Linked DNA regions of Homo sapiens: all the other regions are reported to be linked to region 2. Evidence: microRNA targets listed by miRTarBase, many of them from high-throughput screens and not tested one by one. Region 2 holds a microRNA gene; each other region holds the end of a gene's coding sequence.
The links. Region 2 holds the annotated microRNA hsa-miR-4731-5p (UGCUGGGGGCCACAUGAGUGUG, at 1,688-1,709, opposite strand). A microRNA usually pairs through its seed, bases 2 to 8, with sites in the 3' UTR of a target mRNA and lowers its output. Matches are read on the target gene's strand: a 7mer-m8 pairs with bases 2 to 8, a 7mer-A1 pairs with bases 2 to 7 and ends in A, and an 8mer does both.

Region 1 (5,889 bases), not on the chromosome of region 2:
CTATATTGTATGTGTGTGCCATTAAAAAATGGTGAAATATTGTGATACCATAAATAAGAAAAATATGTCTATATTTATGTGTGTGTAGACTGTCTCAGGAAAGTCACACACATGACCTGTTACTTCCCTGGAGTACTGAGGTTCATCCATGTTGTTGGCTGTGTTCACTTGTTTGTACCACTGTGTAATACTCCATATGTGACTGTCCCACAATGAATGTCTCTCTTCCAGTGACAGGCCTCTGACTATTACAAATGGGGCTGCTATAAACATTCTTGTTCATGTCTCCTGGTGGTGTGCATGGGCAAGAGCTTGGCATATACTTAGGAACAGAATTTCTGGGTGGTAGAGTATTGTGAGTATTCAGCTTTACAGAGGAATGCAAAATTGTTTTCTAAGCCTGTACCAAATTAAACTCCCACCAGCAATATATGAGATTCTTTAGATTCCCATCTTCTCTAGCAATTAGTGAAGTCAGACTTCATGATTTTTGCCAGTCAAATGACTATAAAATGACTTCTCGGTGTGATCTTGATTTGCATTTCTCTGATTACCTGTGTGGTTGAGTGTCTCTTCATATGTTTATTGACCATATTTTTTCCCATTCTGTGAAATTTTTGTTTGTTCAGCTTTTTTTCCATTTGTTCTCATTTTCTTACTGATTTATAGATGTTCTTTATATATTTTCTATTAGAACAATTTTTTGTTGGATATATAAGTTGCACATACCTCCTTACAGTGTGTAAGTTGTCTTTTATTTGCTTTAAGGTATCTTCTTTATGAACAGAAATTTTTAATGTCAATTTAGTTGCATTTATTACATTTTTCCCTTTATGGCTAATTTTTTTGTATCTTGTTTAAGAAATTTATTTTTCCTCTTAAGTATGAAGCATTTGCAGGAATGATGGATTTAAGGAGCAGGTGGAAGATAATAACTTAAATCCACAGTCAATTTAAGAACTCCATTCCAGGCTGTGGTTTGTACTTCCTGTCTCACTAAACCTTTCAATATCATAAAGGTGCCAGATGGCTCACTTGTAATTTTAGTTCTTTTCATTTCTAATGGAAGTAGTGAGGAACCATGAAATGGCCAAGTGGTGAGGACCTGGTTACCCAGGGAGAAGTAATACAGTATTGTGATAGTCAAAAGCTGATTCTTAATTTGGCTGAAAAATGAGAGTGGACAGATAGACTGAAGCTACAAATGTGAATCAAATCCTTCTTTTGTATATGTCTTTCTATTTAGAGTAGTCCATCAAATTGAAGTCAGTTGACATATAATCATCTGCTGTTATTTTGTTTGTTTAGGCTTATTTATAAAGCTGAATCCTGCTAAAAGTCTGACATAAAGAGCTGCTGGTGAACTCCATCTCATTCTCGCCCCTCCAGAAGAAGCAGTTGTCCCCCAAATACTCTGCTCCCTCACTGCTGAATCCCTGTAGGGAGAAGCCTGCCAACAGTGACCTTCCGAAACAGCCTTCTGAATACAAAGAGGATTCAGTTTCCATCTTCTCAACTTTTTAACACAGAAATACTTCCTGCGAGCATATCGACAACTCTCGGGCCAGGCGCTGTGGCTCACACCTATAATCCCAGCACTTTAGGAGGCCGAGGCAGGCGGATTGCCTGAGCTCAGGAGTTCAAGATCAGTCTGGGCAACACGATGAAACTCCGTCTCTACTAAAATACAAAAAATTATCCAGGCATGGTGGCGTACGCCTGTAGTCCCAGCTACTCAGGAGGCTGAGGCAGGAGAATTGCTTGAACCCAGGAGGAAGAGGTTGCAGTGAGCCAAGATCATGCCACATCACTCCAACCTGGGCAACAGAACAAGAACCCATCTCAAACAAACAAACAAACAAAAAAAAAAAACTCTTGTCTCCTTAGGATATGTTACCTGCTCCACTGCAGACTAGAGAAATAAATGTGTATTGAACCTTTTACTGCAAACTTGAAAATGCTAGAAAACCAAGCATGAAGAATAAATACATGGTGGGAAACACACAGGCATGTGCATATGCATATACATTGTAAGTTAGTAAGTTAGAAAGCTAGCTTTGTTGTATCTGAACACATGAATCTTTTTTGGTCAGTGTAGGAAGCACAGCCAGATCCTATAGGAATGAATACCTCAAATCTGTTGTCTGAGATTCTAGAGATTAAACCACTGTGCCATTTTTAACCCAGGCTGTACTGTTGTTTCTTACCAACAGCATAGGTTTTCATCACTGGAAGGAGCCTGTGTTCATTTCCTAGGGCTGCTGTAGCAAAGTAGTACAAACTGGATTGTTTAAACCAACAAAAACTCATTGTCTCTCAGTTCTGGAGGCCAGAAGTTCAAAATCAAGGTGTTGACCAAGGCCATTCTCCTGAAAGTGCTAGGGAAGGAGCTGTCCACGCCTCCCTCCTGGCTTCTGGGAGCCTCAGGTGTTCCTTGGCTTCTAGATGCATCATTCCAGTCCTCCATCTTCACATGGCATTCCCTCTGTGTGTCTCCACAGTGTCTTCCCTCTGTGCAGATCTATCTCTGTGTCCAAGTCTCCTCTTTTTATAAGGAAACCAGTCATAATGGACCCACCTGAATGACCTCATTTTAACTTGATTACCTCTGTAAAAAATGTATTTCCAAATAAAGTGACCTTATGAGGTATTGGAGATTAGGACCACAACATACCTTTTTTGGGAGGACACAATTCAACCTGTAAAAGAGCCTCAACAAAACTAAAAAATGAACGGAGAGTTGAAGGGGGCCAGCCCCTCCACACCTGTGGGTGTTTCTCATCAGGTGGGATGAGAGACTGAGAAAAGAAATAAGGCACAGAGACAAAGTATAAAGAAAGAACCCTGGGCCCAGGGGACCGGTGCTCAGCATACAGAGGACCCGCACCGGCCCCAGTCTCAGCTCTCTCAGTATTTATTGATTACTGTTTTCACTATCTCGGCAAGGGGAATGCAGCAGGAGAACAGGGTGATAGTGGGGAGAAGGTCAGCAGGAAAATCTGTGAGCAAAGGAATCTGTGTTACAAATAAGTTCAAGGGAAGGTACTATGCCCAGATGTGTACGTAGGCCAGATTTATGCTTCTCTCCACCCAAACATCTCAGTGTAGCAAAGAGTAACAGCAGCATTGCCGCCAGCGTATCTTGGCTCCAGCCACAGGGTGGTTTTCTCCTATCTCAGAATGGAACGAACATAGGATCGGGTTTTACACCAAGACATGCTGTTCCCAGGGGCATGCAGGAGACAGAGGCCTTCCTCATCTCAACCACAAGAGGCCTTCCTCTTTTACTAATCCCCCTCAGCACAGACCCTTTGCGGGTGTCGGGCTGGGGGATGGTCAGGTCTTTCCCTTCCCGGGAGGCCATATCTCAGGCTGTCTCAGTGGGGGGAAACCTTGGACAATACCCAGGCTTTCTTGGGCAGAGGTCCCTGCGGCTTTCCACAGTGCATTTTGCCCCTGGTTAATTGAGAATGGAGAATGGCGATGACTTTTACCAAGCATACTGCCTGTAAACATACTGTTAATGAGGCACGTCCTGCACAGTCCTAGATCCCTTAAACCTTGATTCCATACAGCACATGTTTCTGTAAGCACAGGGTTGGGGCTAAAGTTACAGATTAACAGCATCTCAAGGCAAAGCAATTTTCTTAGAACAGATCAAAATGGAATTTCTCATGTCTTCCTTTCTACATAGACACAGTAACAGTCTGATCTCTCTTTTCCCTACAGAGACTAATGTTCTGGAAAATATATTCTGCTTCCTAGTGCAGGCAATAGATTATTTGGGCTTCCATTTCTTTCCTTTCTTTCCCCATATTAGAAATTTAAGCTGAACCATATGAAATCACTATTTCGAAGAACAGAATGGTCAAATATTGACAATTTCCTATGGTTCAACCTAATAACTTAGGGACAGCCTTGTGGTACCCTACCCAGTCATCCTTCCACAGCCAAAAGATCAGCTGGAGCCCTCCATTGCCAGAGCTGACTGACCTGGGATGGCCAAGCCAGAGGAAGACCCACATCCTGGAAGCCCTGTCTCTAGTGCCCAACTCCAGTTCTCAAGTTGCAAGGGCCCAGCAGACATGGGGGCACTGCAGGGGTGAAGCTGGCAGTTCCTTCTCCCAGAAATTCTGAGAGAGCCTGGGAAAGTGCCCCAGGAGATGGCTGGGCTCACAGCTCTACAAGTTACAGGTCTGGCAATGGCCACCCTCTATTCCCAGTCTTCCAACAAATCCTGAAACTTAAGAGAGTGGACTCTTACAATAATTATATTTCACATGTTAAAAAATATGACTCCGAAGGAATAAGCCAGCGCTGCTCATTTAGCTAGTTTCACTTAACTAGTTGGGAGGAAGTTTAGACAATGAAGGTACTGTACTCTCATCGTTAGATTTCTCTGGCAGGCTTGCAGAACTGCTATGGCACACCAGACCTCCAGCCAAGTGAAAGAACCTAACTGAAAGAGTGCCAAATGACCAGGTTTTCTTCATGTTAAGTATGCCTGCCTCCCTTCGTATCCACTTTTTTCCCTTTACAGTTTCATTTCTTACACTGGTTTGCTCACATCCAGGTTAGATGCTGCACAAGATCAACTAAGGAAAAAGCTCAGTCACTGTTAACATAGGGTTCCCCATAGCCAGTGAGGGAAAAATGGCTTCCCTGCTTTGCAGCAGACTATTCCTAGCCTTCACCATGCCCTGGCACTCTTGCTTTCCTCAGGTTGTATTTTGACAAGTATGTAAGATAACAAAAGGTGGCAGAACAGGTAGAAAGAAGGAGAGAGATGCTATCAGAATTGCCAGCTCCACTCCATCACTGGCTTGCTGTGTGACCTAATGGAACTATTCCTCATTTCCTGTTTCCTTCTTTTTCCTTTCTTTTTTCTTTTTCTTTTTTTTTTTTTTTTTTCAAGACAGGGTCTGGCTCTGTCGCCTGGGCTGGAATGCAGAGACACAATCTCAGCTCAATGCAACCTCCACCTCCCAGGTTCAAGCGATTCTCCTGCCTCAGCCTCCCAAGTAGCTGGGACTATAGGCATACACCACCAAACCCAGCTAATTTTTGTATTGTTTGTAGAGACAGGGTTTTGCCATGTTGCCCAGTCTGGTCTCAAACTCCTGGGCTCAAGTGATCTGCCCACCTCAGCCTGCCAAAGTACTGGGATTACAGGCATGAGCCACCTTGCTCAACCTGTTTCCTTCTTTATACCAAGTGCTAACATTTTGAATGAATATTAGGAATTGATGCTGGTTAGTGCTAAAATATCTTTAAACTATCAGTGTAAACATAATTAGGCCGTGAGTTTTTGCTCTTACTCCCAGGTTTCTAAATGTCTAAGAAACAATAAAATGAGAGTCATGTACAGAAATATATTGTTGGAAGAATTTTTTCAAAAAGCAAAATAAGATTAAGTTTTTTCTCTAATGGGAAGATGGAATGAAATATATAAGTTAAGAAAAACCTTTTCTTCTGTATTAAGGAAGCTCATATCCTACATGTTCCTATGTTCCCTATCCCATTACCTTCTCAGGACGCTTAACCTCTTCTGGGGACTTATGAAGCCAAATTATTGTCTTACCTAATGGATGACCATCATGGGACCCTAGTCAAACATATTTTTCAGGACCAAGTATACAACATCCTCTGTGATGGAGACAATGAGGCAATCTTTCAAATTTAAGTCACTAAAGTCATGAATTTTATGTCTCAGAAAAGTTTGAAATTTCACTTGATAGTATTCTTGGTCTGGCACTACTCTGGCCAGTTTAGAATTACAGAATTGGTTTATTCCTTCTCAATTATAGATTTAAAATTAAGTGGACTGCAGACAAAGATACCATAAGAGGAAAAAAAAAGTCAAAACTACAGATCAATATCCCTTACGAG
Region 2 (5,546 bases):
GATCTCGGCTCACTGCAAGCTCCGCCTCCCGGGTTCACGCCATTCTCCTGCCTCAGCCTCCCGAGTAGCTGGGACTACAGGCACCGGCCACCACGCCCGGCTAATTTTGTTTTGTATTTTTAGTAGAGACAGGGTTTCACCGTGTTAGCCAGGATGGTCTCAATCTCCTGACCTTGTAATCCGCCCGCCTCAGCCTCCCAAAGTGCTGGGATTATAGGCGTGAGCCACCGCGCCCAGCCGAGGTAATTTCTTAAGTGACAATATCTCCTGGCATTCCTCCCTCATCACTGGCTGTTCATCCCCAGTCTCCTCTCCTTCCTGTACCCTCGTTAACCCCTGGCATGCCCAAGACTTAGCTCTGAACCCTGTTCCCCTTTTCTGCCTTCTGCTCTCAACTCCTCCCCAAGTAACTGTATTCAGCACCACAACATTGAATACCCTTCGGTATAGAGGAATGACTCTTGACTTTGAATTTCCAGCCCAGACCTCTCCCCTAAGCCAAAGACTTCTAAATTGAAGTGATTTGCTGACCTCTCTGATGGTCAAAATATAAATCCTGATTTCTACACCTTCCCGCAAATCTTCTGTTCCTCCTCCAGTCTCCCCATCTCAGTCCAAGATTCAGTTACACACCAGTTGCTCAAGCCCAAAACGTAGAGTCATCTAGAATCATTCTTCCCTAACTCCCTACATCTAACCCATCAGCAAACCCTGTCATGAGACCTGTTTTCTTCTCTACTTCCCCTCCCTAGCTAAGCCACCAGCTACCTCCTAGAGTTCTTGTGAGGATTAAATGCATTGCTTTTCAAAGAATGCCTGGCACTTACGTGAGCTGTTTGTATTCTTAACATCATTGTCATTGTCATCATTGTCATCTCAGTGTCATCATCATGTCCAGTCTGGACTATGACCACAAACTCCTCACTGGTCCCCAGTTTCCACTCTTGCCTCTCCCCAGAATTCATTCTCAACAGCCAGAATGAGCTTACAAAACATGAATCAAATCATGACACTCTTCTGCTTAAAACCCTTCAATGATGTCCCAACTGTCCTTCTCAGTACCACAGCCTGTGAGGCACCAGCGATCCTGCTCCCATCCCTCTCTCCCGCATTCCCCACCCTCCTTTCTTCAGCTAACTCAGGGCCTTGGTTCTTCCCTTTACCTCCTAGAATTTTCTTCCCATGGTTCTTCCTATAACTGGTCCTTCCCTGTCTTCTAAATCTCAGACCACATCACTATGGAAGGAAGAGGCCTTCCCTGAGCAGCTCATTCCTCCAGTGATGACTTTCCATTGGATCACCCTATTTGTTTCCTGCAGAGCATGTTCCACTACCCATAGTGATGCATGTATTGTGTATTGCCTGTTTCCTCCAACTCCTTGTGAGCTGCACAATGGCAGGGACCTGCTCTTTCTTGTTCATCTCTGTGCACCCCATTTCTAGAACAGTGCCCAGTACATAGGACAGGCTCAATAGAGTTGAAGAACACATGAATGGATCTCACTATTAGCTCTTCAAAAACAAAAGAGGCTCTCTTGAAGGTAATAAGTTCCCCATCAGTGGTAGGATGAACATGTGGTAGGCATATTGCAGAGGGGTCTGTGGCTCGATGGGATAGGAAGGAGGGATGGGCCAGATGACTCCGGGTCCCTGCCAGTGTTGGGGGCCACTTGTGTGTGGATGACTGCACACTCATGTGGCCCCCAGCACTGGCAGGGACCTGACCACAGTCAGAAGGCTTCATCCCAGACAGCCTTCTCTCGGGCACCAAAGATCAACATCCACAACCTCAGGCTGCACCATGGCCAGTCCCTGCTCCTGAAATGCAAGGGATGTTTTCTTGGTGCTGGTGAAATCTTGGGGATACAATTGAAGTTTTTTTAAAGCAAAGACTATAGATTCCAGGTCATACAGTTCAGACACAGGTTCAAACAAACATTTCATACTAATTCCTGGGTATTGGCATCAGAGAAACCCTAAGGGTTGAAATCCTGGCATGTTGACAACACATTCCGTCCTCTGTACCTCCCTTGTACCACCAGGGTCTCAGCATCTCATAAGAGCCTGTAAAATCCAGAGCCATTCCTTGGGTAGAGATTATGGGTTGGCTGAGGGAGCCACGAAGATTTTAAAATGTAAAACATGAACCCATAAATGCAGAAGGTCTCCCGTGTTTTCTAAAATCTGGCCAAAAGCTGAGCCACAGACAAGGAAATTGTCTGGTGTCCTTGCCAAAATGACAGTGTCACCAAATTGATAAACAAGTCTGGGATCGTTTTGAAGACAGCGATGATAGGAGACCACCAAGGGCTCAGGTTGGGGGCTGCTGAGACTGGCAAGATTTAGTTTCTCTAATTTTCAACCCAAAGCATTGATCTAATTCCTCACACAACCTATTGATAGTCATGAGTTTGCTGTTGCTGCTGCTGCTGCTGCTGCTGCTGCTGCTGCTGCTGTTTAAATGGAAAAGAAGAGTAGTAAGTGGTCATCTTCTCAGCGTCTGGTGCTGGTCCCGCCCACACACTGTGGCAGAGCAGACCCACCTGTTGTCACTGGGAAATGAGGGGCTGCAGGTACTGCCCTTAGACAATGGAGGTGGCCAAGGACGTTTGGGGACAGATTACAGGAAAGCTCAACAATTCCCTTCATGCTTTGGTGTTGAGCACTGGCCTCCTTTTTAAAAACAAAAGTGATTCAAAAAGGGGCACATTTTTTGTGCCTAACACCTCAGCATGAAAAAGTTTATCAACTACCTTTTCTTCTGAGACAAGAGAGGACTTTGTGAGCAGGGACAGGCCCTGAGAGACAGATTTTACTGAAGACAAACTGCCTGGGTCCTGCCTCATCACTGAAGCTGATGAAGACCAGCCAGGGGCCAGGGCAAGCCAGGACTGTGCCCTTCTAGCTCTTGGGCTCCCAAGCCGCCTGTGGCTTAATTCCAGTATTCTGACCCATTCTGCTACACGTCAGGTCCACACAAATTAAACAAAAAGCAGGGGAATGCTTGTGAGAACTTGGACTTGATATTTGGATCTTGGAGACTTCAAAACAAAAAGCACTGGTTCATTCAATAGCAGGGCAAATGTTTTGCCTGAATCCTTTGGGTCAGTAGATTTTAAACTCACCCATAGGGTCTTGGGGAGGAGGCTTGGCACACCCCTCCCCCTCACCAGAGCCTTCCAGATTGTATGAGTTTGCAAACTAAAGCTCCAGGAACTGGCCTCATTCAAAGCGACGCCATGGACCCTGCGTGCCATGCCCCAGGGCTCCACTCTCTTAATCAAGGCAGAGGGAACCTACTTACTACTCAAAACCAATTTTCTAACATAAAATGTTCACAGTTATTTTCTGATTGTGAAAATAAAAGATCTCAATGAGGAAAACAGGTAAGGCAGCAAAAGAAAGAAAACAGCCAAAGTGATAAGAATCCCGTCACCCAAAATAATCACTGAAAATATACCGATGCATTTCTACCTTGTACAATTTCTGATATATTCTGCCTTATAGAGGCTTCTGGACTGTCACTCCAACTTGGAATCAAATGGACCACTGAGAAACCCGTGGAAGACAGCAGGTCTAAGGAAATCACAAAGATTAGAAATGCATCCATGTGCACCCAACTCCTTCCTAGTGGGGGTGGGGGGTACCTTTGAGATGGTCTGTGATTCTACTTACCCCTCACTCTCTGTTCCCACTAGTCTGCCCTGCCCTCTGTCCCTCAACTACGCCAAGCTCCTTCCCTCCCCAGCGATCTTGCACTTGACGGTCCTTCTGTATGGAACCTCCCCGAGATGTTCATATGGCTGGCTCCTGGCCACTCCTCAAGGAGACCTTCCTTCACCACTGCAATCCCTCTTTATCCCATTACCCTGTCTTATATAGTTCTTACCATTGCCCCCAAATTCTCCATGTTTACTGACTGGTTTGTCCAGTAAAACATAAGCTCTTGTTCACTCTTGTAACCTTAGCACCTGCAATAGTCTCTGGTACACGAGAGTTGTTCAAGAAATAGTCCTGCATGAAAGATCAGAAGAGAAATGGAGAGACTCCCGAAGTGGGAAGTTCACATTTCAGGACGTGAGAAAACGCTGAAATTCCAAGATGAGGGGAAGAGAGATGGGAGGTGAGACTTAACAGAAGCAGGAGTGGATCATTCAGGTAGATTCCGATGGGCCTTGTTAAAGATTTTCATCTGAAGATTAAGACCAATGAACGGCCTCTGAAAGGTTTCAAAATGAGGAGTGATATAATTAGGTTTGTGCTTTTTTAAATATCAGCCTGGATTCCATATGAAAAATGAGTCACAGAGGAGCAAGAAAGGGTTCAGGCAAACTAGTTAGGAGGCTGCCCTGGCGCCTCTGACAAACGAGGAAGCAGCGTGACCACAGGTGGGCAACAGGCATTGGAACAATGGGGTGGCCTGAGGGACCCGTGACAATGCTGAGAAGAGAAAGAAGGAAACGCGTCAAGTCAAGGCAGACTCTAGATGTTTGGCTTGCTGGCTGGTGAAGCAGCATTCACTAAAATACTAGAAAGTGACAGAGGGGTTGAATTGGCAGAGGAAGATAAGGACTGTCTCTGGCCTAGTGACTTGGGGGCCTCTCTTAGATATCCCAAGGGAAGTGGCCAGGAGACAGCTGGATAAACAGGTCTGGGATTCAGAAGAGAGGTCTGGACTCATTAAATAATAATAAGATGGCCAGGCATGGTGGCTCACGCTTGTAATCTCAGCACTTTGGGAGGCTGAGGCAGGTGGATCACCTGAGGTCGGGAGTTCGAGACCAGCCTGACCAACATGGAGAAAGCCCGTCTCTACTAAAAATACAAAAAATTAGCCAAGCGTGGTGGCGCATGCCTGTAATCCCAGCTACCCGGGAGGCTGAGGCAGGAGAATTGCTTGAACCCGGGAAGCGGAGGTTGCAGTGAGCCAAGATGGCGCCACTGAACTCCAGCCTGGGCAACAAGAGTGAAACTCTGTCTCAATAATAATAATAAGACTTACTTATACCTGGAGAGGTGGTAGAAATAGAGAGAGAGAAGCCTCAACAGGTCCTAAAGTTTCTGAGAAGAGCCCATGTGAGAATGGTGGGGTGGCTGACAGAGCCCAGGATGCAGCAGAGATGGACTCTTTGAAGAATGCTGAAATAACTGGGACTTATGGAACTGCATAGGGCCCAACTGAGCTATTGCAAAAGAGTATGATTGGGTATGGGAGGGGATGGTCAAACCCTCAAGGAAAGTATTCCACACCAGGCTTACAGAGAGGTATTTGCTGCCAGGTTTCTATGATTTGAAAAGCCATGCTTCCCCCAAGGCCGAATGACTATATTTCTCAGCCTCTCTTGTAAATAGGTGTAGGTGTGACCATGTCACATTTCATTAAAAGAAAAGGAGATTCATTCTTCCCCACCTCCTTTCTCCACCCTACTGCTTGAATCATGGATGAGATGGCTGGAGCTCTAGCAGCCTTTTGTTTCCTGAAGATGACAGCCAAACCCAAGAGATGGCAAAGAAATGAGCTAGAAAGTGTCTGCATCTCTGACAAT
Region 3 (5,763 bases), not on the chromosome of region 2:
CAGAGAAACTGGCTTCATTTTCCCAGATAAGCCCCTTCCGCAATACATGGACTTCTGCAGCCACCTGGAACTGCTGGGCTGGGGAAGGGGAGGTGAGGTGGGAGCCCGGGAAATCACCCACAGGGTCACAGGATAAGGATAAGGACTGGCCAAGCAACATCTCGAGACCTCTCTGTCCTGGGACTGTCTCCTCAAATTCAGAGCCGGTCAGCATTGACTGGGTGACCTGTATACCAGGGAGAATGCTTTTACACACGCGCGGAGCCCCCCTAGGAGACTGCCGATTTTATGTCAGTGTTGAGGTTGTGGAAACAGGCCCAGAAAGTTAGGAAGTTCTCCCAGGATCATGTGGCAGATAAGCGGTAGACTAAGTAACAACTTTGATAGGAAAGTGTCTCTTGGGTTTAGTGGGGTCCTTGTAAACAGGTACATCTGTCACTGGGTTGGGTCATTCCTCTCCCTTGACTGCTGACAATTCTTTCCTGAATCCTGGCCTCAGCTCCTGGACAATCCCAAGTTCCGGGTGATCACCAAGATCAAAACCATTGGCAGCACGTATATGGCGGCTTCAGGAGTCACCCCCGATGTCAACACCAATGGCTTTGCCAGCTCCAACAAGGTAGCTAACCCCAGTAGCCAGAGAGATGAGGCTCTGCCCCCAAGGCAAGAGATTGGCAGCCCAGACCTAGCATGGGGGAAATAAGAACTGCTGTGCAAAGTGGTCCCAGACACACACCACCAGCACCACGTAAATATAAATAAGAAATAGGGTTTATTGAGAAAGTTCGGCAAGCAGAGAAACAGAACAGACACACAACCCCCTGCTGTTCACAGCTCAGGCCTAAGATGGTTGTGTTCTGTGGCCAGGCCCCCTAAGGCTCTGTGCTTTCATAGGAACTGGAGAGCAATTGTCAACAAGGGAAACTGAAAGCATGGCCTTCAGAACTCTGGCTGACGGCAGCCTGTTCTTTTGTTAAGCTAATTTAGACCTTTGTTCAGCTACCAGGAGAGAAAATTAGGTGTAGGAGCCCTGGTCCCAAGCTCTGGTCTTAAAACACCATCATCCTGCTTTACCTCTACAACCATCCCACGGCCCTATTATATGGATGAGGTTAAAGAAACACGTCCAAGGCGGGTCATCCCCCTCCAGTGCTTATCACCTAGTTGAGGGATCCAAACAAGGACAACCTGACAAAACCTAAGGACCAGGACCAGGCCCAGCCAAGGTGAAGGGGTCCGCCTCGTGGTCAGACTCACAGGTCCGTCTCCTCTGCTCAATTGCCCAGTCTTTGCCTAGACCTGCTACGTGAACTTTGTCACAGTGGCAAGTCAGAGCTAGCGTGGCTGCGACTCCTTTGTGGGAGGAAAAGTAAGGCCTTGAACATCTAGGTGTAGGGAATCCACCCCCAGAACACTGCCAGGGAAGGCAGCAGAGCAGGCTGCTGCAGTGAGCGGCCCCTGACACTTTCTCCACGGTCCCCTGGCACAGGAAGACAAGTCCGAGAGAGAGCGCTGGCAGCACCTGGCTGACCTGGCCGACTTCGCGCTGGCCATGAAGGATACGCTCACCAACATCAACAACCAGTCCTTCAATAACTTCATGCTGCGCATAGGTGAGCACCCCCAGCTGGCCTGCCCCGCAGCAGGCTCCCTTCCCATGCAGGGGCCTGGCCCACCACCAGGAGAGACATGAGGCTCAGGACAACTGAGGCAATTCGGGTGGGGAGGTTCACGCACTCACAGGGCAAGGAGACCTGAAAGACCTTTAGTCCAGACGACTCTAGATGACTAAACCAAAAACCCAGCTGATGTGATGATCCGACTATACTGTGCCTACTGTTACAATAGAAGCTTGGCCTGCCTGGCTGAGAAGTGAGTTTGTGATCCATTTCCAGAGGGGTTGCTGTGCCTGCTGAGGACATGGCTTCCCAGACAGGCCTGCTCTTTGAAAGGAGTTAAGATCACCTGCTGCTTCTACTGAGGGGGTATCATTCCTGAGTGAGGTCCCAGGAGACTTGAAATACCAGCTGTGTTAGAAGCTGGCCACTACCATGCCGAGTAAATCTGCATATGGGGGGGGGGTGGCGGCTGACACCTAACAAGCACACGGATAAACAGGAGATGTGATTTCCACCCTCCAATAGCATACAGCCAAGTTGAATGAGGACAATGATGTGTTACATTAGGAGCTTTGTGGTACAGGTCTGGAGAGGAGATGGCTTCTGAGGCCCATAACAAGGTGTGGCCTGTGGCTGTGCTGAACTTTATGCCTCTACCCTAGGCATGAACAAAGGCGGGGTTCTGGCTGGGGTCATCGGAGCCCGGAAACCACACTACGACATCTGGGGCAATACAGTCAATGTAGCCAGCAGGATGGAGTCCACGGGGGTCATGGGCAACATTCAGGTATGTCCAGTGGCACAGCTGGCACGTGCTCAGACTCGGCATGAGAACAAAACCGGAACAGTGCTTTCCCACGTGCCCCTGCCTCCCACCCTGGCCCTGAACAGTAAGTCCAGAGGCAGAGACGTGGGGCAAGTGGAAAAGAATCTCTGCAATAGCTAGCCTCAGCACAGGAAGAAACACTTCCACCCATCCACAAAATCTGGGCTGAAGTTCTAGATGCATATGGCCTACCTTTGGGTATGAACCTTCTAATACCTTGTGATCTGTCTCAGTGGCGTCTGGCAGAAAAGCTCCACGAAAGGGGCAAAGGGACAGAAGAGCAGGCAGTGGCAGTTTCCAGGTAACAGTGCTGCCACCCAGGTGACCATGGCCATCCTAGGAGAGAAGTCTCTGGATGAGAGGAGGCCCCCAGCCAGTCACTCCAGGGTTCTCCTTCCCACCCGCTGCTCGCCACGGGTGGAAGGGCTTGGCCCTGGGAGGTTTGGGGAGTGTCCCGTACTGCTTGGGACCCATGGATCAGTGCTCGGCTCCAACCACCCAAAGCCCCCACCCGCCCTCAGTCTAGGCTCCCCCCGTAACGCCACGTTCTTGCTCCCCCTCCCTCTCCAGGTGGTAGAAGAAACCCAAGTCATCCTCCGAGAGTACGGCTTCCGCTTTGTGAGGCGAGGCCCCATCTTTGTGAAGGGGAAGGGGGAGCTGCTGACCTTCTTCTTGAAGGGGCGGGATAAGCTAGCCACCTTCCCCAATGGCCCCTCTGTCACACTGCCCCACCAGGTGGTGGACAACTCCTGAATGGCCTCGAGCCTGCAACAGTCCAAACCGGAAGGGAGAATTTATTTTTTGAAACTGAAGGAAGTCCCGACCTTCCTGGATTGAAGTGCACACTCATGGACTTTAGGTTTAGAAACCTCCTCAGCCTTCATTTGTTCGTGGATGTGTGAGCTCTGAGGGTGGCCCTGCTATTCCTGTGTGTGCCTGTAGTGTCCCCAGCATAGGGGTCTTAGGCATAGGGCTGAACAGTCCTTCCAGAGCCCTCGTTCCAATCCCTGCCGTCCTTGCCCCTGAGGGGCCCTGACCACTGTGAGCAGGAGGGTGGCAGAGCTGGGACAAAGCTGCCTTTGCCGCTGGGCTTTCCGGGACTGTGGAGGGAGCACAGGCGGGGAAGCTCCACTTCAGACAGGGCTTGGTGGGGCAGGACATGGCTCCCATTTTGAAGGGAGGTCTCCATGTGGTCCGAGTGAGGTGAGACGGCCCTCGTCCTGGTGTTCCTGATCATCTTGAAAGGTTCTTCTGGAACTCCTGTCCCCTTAGTCATGAGAACAGAAAGTGCAATATTTCCTTTCACCTGGCAGGGGAGGGGGGATTTATTTCTGAAAGAAAAATATATAAACAGATCTTCTACATTTATATTTTTAATCTTCTGTTAAATACACTTTCCGATATTGCCTTGCCTTTTGAGCTCTTGCTACAGTCGCCTTTGCTACTGCTTTAAGAGAATTTACAGGTATTGATAAAGAACAAGACTGTTTTATTAAAAGCTTTATTCAACTTGAAAGTGATTGTGGAAATTCTGTTAATATCACTTATCTGAGGAGTGCTGGTACTTTGCTGACTCATGCCACTGGTCCCCACCACAGGCCTGGAAGGCAAGAGCTTGAAGGTCTCATCATAGCTCACTGTACCCCGGAACGCCTGCTGCCTGGCCCTGTCTCTTTTATTCTTAAACTTTCTTCTAAAGGGTACTCCAAGCTGGCTTTAATCCCCTGCACTGTTCCTGGAGCTCTCCCACACGGAGGTTACTTCGTGGCCATTGCAGGGTTAAGTCTGAACGTGGCCTTGGGCCAGTCATGACTCCTATCTGTGCCTGGGCAAGGGAGGGCTACAGGAGAACCTGGTCAGCCAGACACAGGTTTTCATATCTGTGAGTGACCCACACGCCAAGGAACCAGAGGTGCCAGCAGGTCAGAGGCCCGTGGTTACGGCAAATCAGGACACTAACCGGAGAGCCTGCAGGAGAGGGAAGACCCGGGGGGCGCCTGAGTCCCCCTGAGTTAATGGGCAGATTTCTAACTAACTAACTGTGCTTTTTCAGAGGGGACTTCCTAGTACATTCACAGCTCTACTAAACTTTTAGGAAACAAAATATGAGACACACTGAACTCTGATTATTTTATCCTACTGCTTTCTCACACCATATTTATAAAGCAGTGGCCTAGAATACACTGCGCCTAACCAAACAAACACTGAAGAACTTCCTTTTCAAAAGTTTCAAACAGGAAAATGAGGAAAAATTACTTAAAGCTTTCATAAAAGCTAAAAATACTTTCCTTTTAAAAAAAAAAAAATATTGGGTCTTCCTTATTATCTTCATTAGTGAATGTGGGTTATTTTTCCATTTATTTAGATCAGTGTTTCTCAACAGAATCAAGCTATTGCAGTTTGAGTGGAGTGCTACATTTCTGTGAGAGCCCTTTCTGAAAATTTTAGGATTTTTGGCATCTCTATTCCTGGCATTAAATTAGTAGCAGTTACTGTGACAACTTAATTGCCTGGTCTTTCCCAGAGTTAATGCCCTCAATAATTTGATATTTTTCCATAAGTACTTCTTGAGTGATACACCTTTTTCAAAAAATGGCTTTTATTGCCCCACAAATGATTTTCAACTAAAATGTATGATCAACTAATACCTTTAAAAAACATCTTGAGCATTTTAAGAAGGGACCAGGTGATCATGGGAATTGTTCAAAAATGCCAGTGTCTATACTCAAACCTGCTCTTCCATCCAGATGAACAGGTAGGTGTCTGTTTTCATCAGAAGGGTGATGTACCCTTCATCAGACAGTACTACCCACCTGGTACTGTCTTCAGTACTGGTTACTTACCTCTGATGTGCTCCCAGTGCAGTGAAAACAATCTATTAGGAGACCAGACTCATATCCAACTTTTCTCCTTTTCTTGTAAATGAGGCAAACACTTGATGCAAGGGCTTCGTACAGAACAGAGTTTCATGAGATGCTCGTTGCTCCTCCCATGAAGTGGATAATACTTCCACTCCTAAAAAGAAAGATTCCATCAATCTCATTCAGTGCAGCTGGGGGAATCGGAGCCTGGATCACTGATATTCAATCTCATTCAGTGCAGCTGGGGGAATCGGAGCCTGGATCACTGACATTCAATCTCACTCAGTGCAGCTGGGGGAATCGGAACCTGGATCACTGATATTCTGGACCCACTGGACCCATACAGCTTTTTTTTTTGGTCTGGACTAAGGCTGCCCCTTACTGGACCAATGCAATCTAGAGACTGGGGACTGGAATCTAACTGCGCAGAGAAATCAAAGACCGATGGTGTGAAATC
Region 4 (5,889 bases), not on the chromosome of region 2:
AATTAGAATCACTTCTTAAGCCTGCTTATTTTCTAACTTAAGTGACATCCTTTAAGGTTGTCATAGTTATTAAGTGAAAACATTGGCTGAGTATGCTTCTCTACTGGAAATAGACAAAAATTCACAAGAATTTATGATATTCACATAGGTTATAATTTATTGAAGTTCCAGTATAATATAGGAATACTAGATAGATAATTAGAAAGCAGATCATATAAGACCAGACTGCTAAATCAATAACCATTGCTGAACCCTATTTCCTAATGCCGATAAAAATGGGCTAAGTGAAGACTGGATAACATTTTTCAAGTTCCTTTCAGCTCTCAAGCTGCAGTACTTCTAGTGGAGATAGAAGACAGGAGACTTTTCCTTAAATACTCTAGACCTGATCAGACCCTGCCAGCAGATGATAACCCAGAAGTTAAAATAATCATTTTCCTCTGTGGGCATTAGCCTTTGTGAAATATACATATAAATAAACACACAAAAGTAGCTCTATGTGTGTGTACACATATTTGAAACCTTCCAGCAATTGTCTTAATGTCTTAACATACCTTTGCACAACTGAAGTCAGATTTCATGTAATAAATGTTCCCTTTACTCTTGATTAAAATCATCAACCACTCCCCTCTCACCTCTTTCTCCTAGCAGACTGTAGAAAGGAAATCATTTCTTAGGCTGTTTACTCTGCCTCTATTTTGAATGGATGCATTGGTTTAACAAATACTATCAATTTTCTGGTGAATGTAAAGTCTATTCCAAATACTCCTCATCATATTTACATGGTGCTGACACAAATCAGATGCTCAATAAAACACCTGAAATGAACAGGAAAAAACAATCCTAACTCAGAAAGGGAAGGTTTTCACAAACACTTCTTAGCATTTACAAAATCCACTTGATTAACCACTATTGATTTCCACTTGTCAGAATAAAAGTCAGCATTGCTTTCTTAAGGGTGTCAAGGTGGGAGGTAGGGGTGGCTGGAAGAGTGGGAGCGTAGCTTAGATACAAGACATTTGGCATTTTATCACACAATGTTACACTGATATGGACGGAGTCTAGAACTACATGGTGTATGAAAGCTAGGATTATTTCTAGAAACCTATTTAGATTGATATACAGGTTAAAAAGTTCTTAGATGTAATGGATAAAGTCTTATCTATTAGCATATTCATTTTAAGAAGTTGTAAAGGATAATTTAAATTTAAATAAGATCCCAATAAATATGGTTTTCAAAAAGGATCTTTTCTGCACATAAAAATGACGACAGTGGGTAGTTCCCAGATGAAAAATTCATATATGAGAAATTTAAATGTAATTCTAAACTTCTAATGATTGGCATTTAAAGACAGGCATTGATGATTTAAAAAGGCAGCAGTGCTCATTGCCAAGAAATTATTAAACTCACAAGTATAAACAAGGCCCTAAATTAAAGAACATGCCAACCATGACTTTTGTCTCTTTACATCTATACAATGATATCTTTTGGTCTATGGTTGTCATATTCTGTCCATACAGATAGAACAGACAAATTTTATTTTTAAATTCAGGTGAAAAACTGCCAAAACAGTCATTTAATGTGTAGACCCCGACATAATTTTACTTTCTCAGTTTTTAATTTATCATGTCATATAGCAGCCTAAATTATATTTGTCTGTTTATAGAACAGAATGACCAAATAAGATTATAAGTTACTTCACTATCTTATACTGTTTTGACTGTGAAGTCAGGAAATAGATTAAGAGAATTTCTCTTTGACATAAGTTTATGTTTACTTCTCTCTTTAAATAAACTTAAATATTTTAATATGATAATTTATTTGGTATCTTGGCTATTAATGTTTAGGAGCTTGATTTCCTGAAATTTATTATTATGAGTTTTGAATGTCTGAAATGACATCGTTTAGATTATACCAAAGATTTAAAATGTGTACTCTTCCCCTCATACTAAATGGCTTTCCAAAATATCTGCCATTTGACTCTAAACTTTATCAAGATCTTACAGAAATATTCAGAAACTGCTAGGAAATGAATCTTTTAAAACCCCAATCCACATAAAATAATTGTGTAAAATAACATTTGTATAGGTGAGCAAATTTTCACTTTTATCAAACTGGGCAATGTTAAGGTTCTATCTCTCTGTAGACTTAAAAACAAAAAAACCTGAAGAGGAAAATACGGGAATTCCCACATCCTTAATGGGAATCAGATCCTCCATTAGGCTGGACAGTCAAAAGTCTCCTTATTAACATGCTTATAACTTAATAAGTATATATAAAATGGAATAATTTAATTGTACACAAAAAAACAAGAAAATTCTCAATTTAGTTATTGAGTTATTACACTTAGAAATAAGTCAATAATGTTTCATTCTTCGTTTGAAGAATCCCAATCAATATATCAGTGTGAACAAAGCTTGATATTAACTGAAATGAGTGCTAAAGAATAATATTTTAGTTATGGACATGAATAAATCACAATTATTTGCTCTAACTTTAGCTTAGATTATCAATATGTTTAACATTAATCTGCATGTTAGATGTCTTCCTAAAGTTAGGGATGAAATAAATATGAAATTTGAAGCATAAAAGCATCTTTTAAAGTTGAGCTGCTAAACCGTAACCCCTCAGTCCCTCAAGTAAAGGAATGTGCAGATTTTGAACAATTCCATAGCAGCAGTGTGCACTCAGTAGAACACAAATTATCTTTGCTTCTTATAGCAAATCACGAGTACTGAGTAAGAAACAGAATTTCCTTACCCTTCTTTGACTGTATAACACTCAATATAGCTGTTTTTTAAAATGTGAACTTATTCAAAATGCATAAAAATATACGAATGTACAATATACATATATACCTCCTAGTGGGGTCAAATGAGTGCCTTTTCGTTAGACATACAAGGACGTCTCAAGGCACTTAAGGGGTTAAGACACAATGCATGCATTCCTTTACATCAAGTATGTGAAATCACATGATTTGGAATAAGCCAACCTTATGATAAATATAAGTTACATTATTAAATCCAAGAGAATTTGTAGATTCATATTTATATTTTCTATAAGATGCTGGTAAATGGACAATGTGCAGCATTTCCTGGGAACAGCAAATTCCATCTTTCTTCTTCTGAGCAGCAGGCAGGTCTCTACAGGGGGTGTGCAGGGAAAAATGTGCTGCATCCATAGGCAGTGTATTGGCTAATATTAAGAACGATATTGCTAAAATTTTAAAAATAAAATCTGGTAATCAGTATAGTAAGTACGCAAACCACTGCAAAAGACCAGAGCTGACTCCTGATGTTTACTTCTTTTTGCTTTCATGATACAGGTGTATAACAGAGATGATGAGAATTTTGAGCCTTGTTTGTGGCAATTCTACCAAAAGGGGATTGCATGGCACCACCACAAAATTTCATAAATTACCCTGAACATACTCAGTTATTTACTATTTGTTCGGAGCAAAGCATGAAACAGTCTTCAAATACATGAGTTATAGATTTTGAAAGAGTGACATTTTTTAAAACATAAAGTGCAACAGTGCTGAAGTTTTCAAAGTTTTTTTGAGTTCTTCATTTTTTTTTTGTAAAATGCCATTTCCTGCGAGCAGCATTATGGCACAGTGAACATAAGGGAAAGCAGTTTTCCAACACATATCCCAGATCTTTTTGCTTTCTTATTTATTTGTTGATGTTGTTAAGGGTTTAACAAAGCCTTCTTCATAAACTTTCAAAATAGCTTCACATACAAATCTGTATTGACTCTGAAAAATAAAATATAAAAAACAGAACTGATCAGAAAAGTCAGAAAACCGTCCCCTCTCCCCCCAAAAAAGACAAACATCTCACTTGGCTTGCTTACTTAAAAAATGCAAAACAAAACTGCATAAAGATACCATTTTTCACTAACAGTCTAGACTGGTTAAAAAATACAGTTTGGCAATATATTTTGTTGGCAAAACTCACTTATATGTTGCTGGTAGGGATGTTAAAATACTGCAGCCTCTATAAAGGGGAATTTGGCAGCATATAAGAAAATTAACCTAATTTACCTCTTCACCCAGCAATCCCACTTCTAAGAATCTATCCAAAAAATAAACCAGAAAAAGAAACTGAAAACACATATTCACAAACAAGGCTATTCATTGCCTAATTATTTATAACAGAAAAGGTGGAAACAATTTAATTGCCATCAACAGGGACCAGGTGACTACTGTACATTCTCAAAATGGAATACTAGCTAGTCGGGAAGAAAAGGGATAAAAGTCTACAAACTACTAGAGAATGATTCCAGGTTATTTTATTAAGTAAAAAAAGCAAGGTAGGTAAAGTACGTATAATATATTATATTACCTTTATAAAAGAAAGGGAAGAAAATACAGTATCTATCTTGATGTATGTTAAGAAAAAAAAAGCAATGGAAGAATAAATTATTTTAAAAATAGTTTCTTGGCCGGGTGCGGTGGCTCACGCCTGTAATCCCAGCACTTTGGGAGGCCAAGGTGGGTGGATCACGAGGTCAGGAGATCGAGACCATCCTGGCTAACACGGTGAAACCCCGTCTCTACTAAAAATACAAAAAAAATTAGCCGGGCGTGGTAGTGGGTGCCTGTAGTCCCAGCTACTCAGGAGGCTGAGGCAGGAGAATGGCGTGAACCTGGGAGGCGGAGCTTGCAGTGAGCCGAGATCGCGCCACTGTGCTCCAGCCTGGGCAACAGAACGAGACTCCGTCTCAAAAAAAAAAAAAATAAATAAATAAATAAAAATAAAATAAAATAAATAAAAATAGTTTCTTATAAAGGGATGGAGGGAAATGGGAGCAGGAGAGGGACAGAGACTAGACTAGACTTCATTAAATATACCTTCCTTTTTAGATTTATACTTTGGAATAATGTAAATATAGCATATAATTATAAAAATCTTAAAATCCCTAAGCATTGACAATATCATAAAACTAATCAATGTGTGTATCTAGTTGATGACAACCATATAGAGGAGAGCTATTTGAAGGGACATTTTTTTTTAGACGGAGTCTCACTCTGTCACCCAGGCTAGAGTTCAATGGCGCAATCTTGACTTACTGCAACCTCCTCCTCCCGGGTTCAAGAGAGTCTCCTGCCTCAGCCTCCGGAGTAGCTGGGATTACAGGCACCTGCCATCATGCCCGGCTAATTTTTGTACTTTCGCAGAGACAGGCTTTCACCATGTTGGCCAGACTGGTCTTGAACTCCTGACCTCAGGTGATCCCCACCTGCAATGGCCTCCTAAAGTGCTGAGATTACAGGCGTGAGCCACCGCACCCATCCCTGAAGGGACTTTAAAACAGTAATTTGGCTGGCCATGGTGGCTCATGCCTGTAATACCAGCACTCTCGTAGGCCAAGGTGGGAGCATCACTTGTGGCCAGGAATTCAAGACCAGCATGGGCAACACAGCAAGACCCTGTGTCTACAAAAAAAGAAAAAAAAATTGGGTGGGTGCTGTGGTGTGTGCCTGTAGTCCTAAGATACTTGGGAGGTGGAGATGGGAGGAACATTTGAGCCAAGGAGGTTGAGGCTGCGATGAGTGGTGATCACACTACTGCAAACCAGCCTGGCAACAGAGCAAGACTCTGTCTCAAAAATACTGCAAATAAACAAACAAACAAACAAACACCTCAGTAATTTGACTGCATACTGTGGGAGAATATACTCAAAGGGCAAAAAGAGCTGTGAAAAAAAGGAAAACTCTTTTCATTAGCCATACTGTTTATAGTGGTAGTGTTGTTATTCTGAAACAGTTGTGTAATGTGGAGTATTTGTGATATTCTAAGTCTTTCATTGCTAATATTGTAAAGAACCAGTATTCTTGTTAAAGATGTAAAAGAGGCTAAGTAAAAACACTGTGGTCCTGAATT
Region 5 (5,392 bases), not on the chromosome of region 2:
CTGGGAGTTCGAGACCAGCCTGGGCAACATTGGGAAACCCATCTCTACTAAAAATACAAAAAGTAGCAGGGCGTGGTGGTGCACGCCTGTAGCTACTTGGGATGCTGAGGCAGGAGAATCGCTTGAACCTGCGAGGCGGAGGTTGCAGTGTGCCGAGATCTTGCCACTGCACTCCAGCCTGGACAAGAGAGACTCTGTCCCCAAAAAAACAAAAAAGTGCATTTCATGGGATGGTGTACATACCCACCTCTTTGCCGCATCTGGCTGGTGCATGCCCTTAGTTGCTGGGAGGTCAGGACGAGGGCAGGTTCACTTGAAACCTCAGCCCTACATAGTAACAAGCTCAAACACCCTTTTTACCAGAACAATGCTCTCCACAAATCATCAGAACCTGTGGCCTGGCTCAAACCACCTTTCAAGACATTCACATATGGGCAAGCAGCACTTGGACACTCCAGACAAAGATATATTAAAAGAGAGGGTCTTTCCAAAAGGATCCCTACTGCACCCACCAAGGGACTGGGTTTCCATATTTAATTGGGGAGAGGCTTTTATCTGTTGGGATTAATTCCCCTTACACACAGAGCCATACCCTGTATGGAGCTAACTTTCCTGTTTGGCAGACACAGGAAATCACCGAGATCAGGTTCTTGGTCCAGACCATGACATAAGAGAAAAGATTTTCTTCAGACCTTTGCATTGCCCCCAGTGATACCCTGAGTTTTCCATTTTGGGTGGCTGGAGAACAGGGTGTGTGGTGACAGATGGGGTTGAGCGGAGAGCCTGGAATCTGTCATCGTCTTTAGTAAAATTGCCTTCCTTCAGTACCCTGACCGGCAAAGCACACTTCTGACCTCTTTCTGAACTGAATTAAGAATGGCCATGAACAGTCCGGGAAGTGGTTTTGAACTTTCAGGTGCTGTCCTTAGAGCACAATGGGCCTGTGTTCTTCCCCGTGGATCCATGGGGCCGGAACCATGAATAGCAGGCGCACAGTGGGTTTTGGTGCAACTGACCTTGTCCACACATCAGAGTTTCCGGTTTCCCAATGACAAGCCTGTCTACGTATGTAAATTGATCCTGACTTTCCCTTTCTTTTCTTTGCAGTGAAATGCAAAATGGAGGACGATGCAGTACCTGCAGCCAAGATGAAAATTCCATCATCTTAACCATAGCTAAGACGTATCTTTGCCCATTCGAGCACAAGTTACCTTGTGCAAGGAAAATGTCCAAATGATGCTCTCTCTCTTGTGATTTCTTTAACAAGACTTGGAACATGTGCAAATGGAATCTTTTCTGTACAAGATAGGATTCATTGCAAACAAGCTTTAATGCAAATAGTTTAGAAAAGAAAGGACCAGTCTTCACTTTCTGCATTATCCCCACATTTTATTCATTCATCCAGATTACTTCTTCAGTGCCTCAGGAGTATTCTTCTACACCAGCTGCTGTTAAAATGTACAATGAACTCTAGTCCCAAGGAATACAGAAGTGCTCTTATTACCAGTTTTCCCACTTGTGGCCGCCTTTGCAAAGATCCATATTCTAATTTAAGTCCCCAACCTCTGAATTTGGTTTTAAGTTTACCTAGTGACTGACTACTCTCTTTATAAAAAAGACCTTATACTTAATGATCATTTCCAAAGGAGACCACTCCTTAACTTTTACTGCAAACCCAACAAGATGAGACACTTAAACCCAGACAGATGTAACAAAGGATTTTTGTTGTCTAAGTCCCAAAGTATTATATAGAAAGTTCCTGCTTTTATGGGTAAACTTATTACCTTAATATGTTCTGTGGTTTGCTGTTAACCAAGATTCTCCCATTTAAAATGCCACAGACCGACCCTCAAGGCAGATCCGAAAGCCTAGTAGTTAGTTGCACTGGGTTGTTTTGACAAGCTACCACACGTCTTAAGTAAATAGTAAAGCCTTTATTTTTGTGTTAAGAACAGCATTTTGAAAATAAAACCTATCTGCCCATGGTTTACAGCCTTTTAAATTTGTAATATTTATATAGTCGTTTATGGTACATATTGATTGTCTTGAAATTTCTTTAACTTCTTTTTTATAAGTATGCAACAGTCAGCCGGGGGAAGATAAAGGTACATTATAAAACACACATTAATGCATTTAATAAATATATATTATCTATCAAAAGTGAGCCTTAGCTCTTCATCAGTTAATAAAAAGCACCTGCTGAGAACTCCTGTAAGCTGGTATCATCATTGCATCATTGGATTATAAAAGCCACAATGCTCCCTTTCAACTTGGGGTTTGGCCTGAGGCGTTCAACTCAGCCTTGGCCAACCGAGACCACCACCCGAGTTCACCCTTGTTCAGTGGGTCCTGACGGCATCTGGGCTAAAAAAAAAAAAAAAAAAAAGCACTGGGCGCCCAGCTTCCAACAACCAGATCTTCAACTCTGGAATCCCTGGAGATGCACAGAACTTCCCAGTTTGTAAGCTGTCAGAGCTGACTCCCTTCTCTTCCCACCCTCCACCTCCAGTGGGGAGAAATCCAGGCTAGAATGACAATTTTCTATTAAAAGGGGGGACAAGAGTGGCTGTTATAGACCCAAAGCGATTTTAATAACCAGACACGGAACAATTTGTGCTTACAATGAGAGATTTTGATCACAGATGCTCTCCTCCCGGGTCGTTTTCCCCAAACGAGTCTTGTTTACACACGCAGATCTTAAACAGAGGTGCCATTTAATTTTGTCTTTAAACCTTGCTCCACGGGGGGCAGCTGGCTGCTACAGTCTCTTGGCAAAGATGTCTCTTGATACTTTTCAGGTGTAGTCATTAGAAAAAGAACAGCTCTCTCCCTTCTCCTCTCACTCCCGCCTCCGCCCCCATTATGAAGGCGTTCAGCCCACTCTCAACCTTAAAAGCCAAAATAAAACAAAACCCTAAGTGCGATAACATATCAGATTTAAAAGGGGGGAAAAAGGTCTCATTAAATGAGGCTTCCCATGGCTCAAAGATGGCTCTGTTCTTATGCTGGGGAAGCACGACTTTCCATGGCAGCCATTTGTGCTGTGCTCACCTTATATGCTTGGACAATAAAGAACTTAGAAAACGAACGTGTGAATTGCTCCATCGTGTGAATGGTATCAGAAAGCTCCAAAGGACTCCAGAGAGCGGGGGTGAGTAACCATTTCCTGGCACGAGAATGTGTAATGCTGTCGTTTTTTCACCGGACAGGACCGAGGTGTTTGAAGATTTCTTTCTTTTCAGAATACCGGGTCCGCATGCAACCGCCCCCACCCCCACCCCAGGTCCTAGCTTCATTCCCTCCCACCCCTCCCCAGGACTCTTACGTTTTCTGTCCACGCAATGACTGGAACGGGATTCTCTAGAAGCAAGCACATGCTCTGGGCAGAGGCGGGGTGCTTCCGGGGAGGTCAGGTGGGGGTGGCATTCTGGGGCCATGCGTTTTCTTCCCCATGCGTGGTAACACAAGGAAATGTACTAACTGTTAAGGAAAACTCGAAGGCGGGTCACACAGGGAGGGCCAGATTGGCCTTACTTTCCCCAGTGCTTTGCAAGGATGGGGTGGGGAGGGGAGACAGCAGAGACTAGGGCCTTGAGAAATATCAAAAGGTTTATTGAAACATACTCAGCTCAGACGTACTGGCTTATGAAGCGGTCAGTCCTCCCCCGGCCCCCAAACACTAACCTTTTTCATTTTTCTTTAAAGGTTAAAGGCTTATGGGTAGTTTTATAGAAAAAGCAATGTAGTGATTAGAGTATCTGCAGAAGGACCCACCCTCATTTATACATTCCATGCCGTCAGGTTAAAACTCTGCTTTGAATCGATGCTAGAGGTTATGCTGGCCAAACAGTGCAGAGAACATGGGGGCTTTGAATGGCCGAGATGTTCGAAATGCTAAATAACAAAGGAATGACTTGCTCAGGACAGATGGAAACCATGACAGAAACAATGGGCTTGGAAAAGGGCTGTTTTCATGGAACCTGCAGAAAAACCAAAACAAAATATCCCCCACACCCTCCAAAAGCAACAAGAAACCCTCATGTGATCCATTCCATCCAGGAATTTTCACCATAGCAACGGAAAGGACCCGAGGTGTCACTGCTTGTGAGGCAGCGAGAGGTCATCTCTGCATCCTAGTGGGAACCCCTGAAGCCCTGCTAGGTGACATCATCGCGGAAAACCTGCCGTGGTGCCTGCCTTCCAACCTGCCTCCCGGAGGGGCTTTCAGCTGGAGACCCCATTGGAGCTCTTGAAATGAATAAGGGAATAAAATTGGGAGAGGATTTGGAGATACACCCGTAAGTGTAGGAACAGGGCGAGATGATCAAGGGAAGAAGGGACTGCTGCCCCAAGCCAGAATATTTCTATGGCTCTACAAGGGAAGGGGCGGGGCCTGTGTTCTCACCATAGACACTAGAGCAAGAGCCCCATAGAAGGAACAGTGGTTGATCACTTTCCAAATGTGATGGTCACTTCATCACCCAGAGGGCCTCTTCTTTGGCACATGCCAGGGTCCCTCCACCTCTACTGGCTATAAAGCTCACCCCACGATTCAGTTGGGCCTCACCTTGGAATCCCACCCACAACCTCCTTAACTCTCCTGACCCCCCTGAAATGTGCAAACCACCAGGCAAGCCGGTGGCAAAGTCCCCATTTGTCCTCAACGCAACGGTCATCTCCAAGAGGCTACCTGGGGTCCAGCACTTGCTGGGGAGAGGTGATAAGAGTGGGAGCCCCCCACCTCCAACCAACACCAGTCTGGCCCACCAGCTGTGAATTTGGTTCTGTTCTACCCCCAGAGGATGAAACAGTCTTCCCAGCCACATTTTCCAGTGAGCCTAATACTATTTGCAATTAGCTTTGCTTTAGTTTGCGGGGATTGAGGTTGGTCTGGTATTACGTGTCTGTGTGTGTGGCAGGGGAGGGGCGGGCAGTCGGTGTTAGCTTTTCAGTTCGTCAGTGTTCACATTTACACGAAATCCCCTTGGCTAGGATTTCCAAATTTCCTGGCTGTGAGGCGGCCTGGTTCGGCAACTGTTACCGATTTCTCCCTCAAGAAAGACACAGCCAGGGAGGCAAATCGGTAAGAGAAATTCTGATTCTCTGGAACTTAAAGTCTTTCACCAAAGGTGTCTTCCTGTGTGACTTGGCGGAGCAGTTGGGATCTGGAATAACACATAAGGATAACACACTGAGAACTCTGTGCTTTGCAAAGTCAACACTAGAAACCGATGCGTAAACAACGCGGCAAAAATAAGTTACCTTGCTTTTACCTAGATGGGTCGAATAATTCCCAGGAGAGGCAGCAATGACTGTGAGTCATGCTGCTGTGGTTCTTGGGAAGCCCAGCTCCCTTTTCTATAACCATCCACCCGTAAGGAATGTAAGTTCA

Region 1: miRTarBase lists THEM4 as a target of hsa-miR-4731-5p. Seed matches in the 3' UTR shown: 7mer-A1 at 1,592-1,598 and 7mer-A1 at 4,076-4,082.
Region 3: the mRNA of CENPO is a reported target of hsa-miR-4731-5p. Seed matches in the 3' UTR shown: 7mer-m8 at 2,305-2,311.
Region 4: miRTarBase lists PTPN4 as a target of hsa-miR-4731-5p. The part of its 3' UTR that is shown has no 7-base or 8-base seed match.
Region 5: the mRNA of GPRC5B is a reported target of hsa-miR-4731-5p. Seed matches in the 3' UTR shown: 8mer at 4,706-4,713 and 8mer at 3,004-3,011.

What each region holds. Positions count from the first base shown.
Region 1 is chr1:151,870,348-151,876,236 of GRCh38, reverse strand. THEM4 (thioesterase superfamily member 4) reads left to right here. Exons shown (of 6, transcript NM_053055.5): 6 at 1,309-5,371. The coding sequence ends at 1,349. Among named protein-coding and RNA genes, the nearest start is that of THEM5, 20 kb to the right of the region's middle.
Region 2 is chr17:15,249,979-15,255,524 of GRCh38, forward strand. MIR4731 (microRNA 4731) reads right to left here and starts at 1,718; the gene lies at 1,649-1,718. All of the region lies in intron 3 of PMP22 (peripheral myelin protein 22), which reads right to left.
Region 3 is chr2:24,817,367-24,823,129 of GRCh38, reverse strand. It overlaps CENPO (centromere protein O), which reads right to left. Exons shown (of 8, transcript NM_001322101.2): 7 at 5,289-5,460; 8 at 754-3,776. The coding sequence ends at 5,324. ADCY3 (adenylate cyclase 3) reads left to right here. Exons shown (of 22, transcript NM_004036.5): 19 at 500-619; 20 at 1,490-1,613; 21 at 2,282-2,406; 22 at 3,016-3,961. The coding sequence ends at 3,198. Among named protein-coding and RNA genes, the nearest start is that of CENPO, 27 kb to the right of the region's middle. RefSeq lists enhancers at 76-620, 621-1,164.
Region 4 is chr2:119,974,853-119,980,741 of GRCh38, reverse strand. It overlaps PTPN4 (protein tyrosine phosphatase non-receptor type 4), which reads right to left. Exons shown (of 27, transcript NM_002830.4): 27 at 1-3,758. The coding sequence ends at 3,672. Among named protein-coding and RNA genes, the nearest start is that of EPB41L5, 35 kb to the left of the region's middle.
Region 5 is chr16:19,855,380-19,860,771 of GRCh38, forward strand. GPRC5B (G protein-coupled receptor class C group 5 member B) reads right to left here. Exons shown (of 4, transcript NM_016235.3): 4 at 1,312-5,165. The coding sequence ends at 5,121. IQCK (IQ motif containing K) reads left to right here. Exons shown (of 9, transcript NM_153208.3): 9 at 1,108-3,088. The coding sequence ends at 1,169. Among named protein-coding and RNA genes, the nearest start is that of GPRC5B, 27 kb to the right of the region's middle. RefSeq lists enhancers at 2,807-4,006, 5,280-5,392.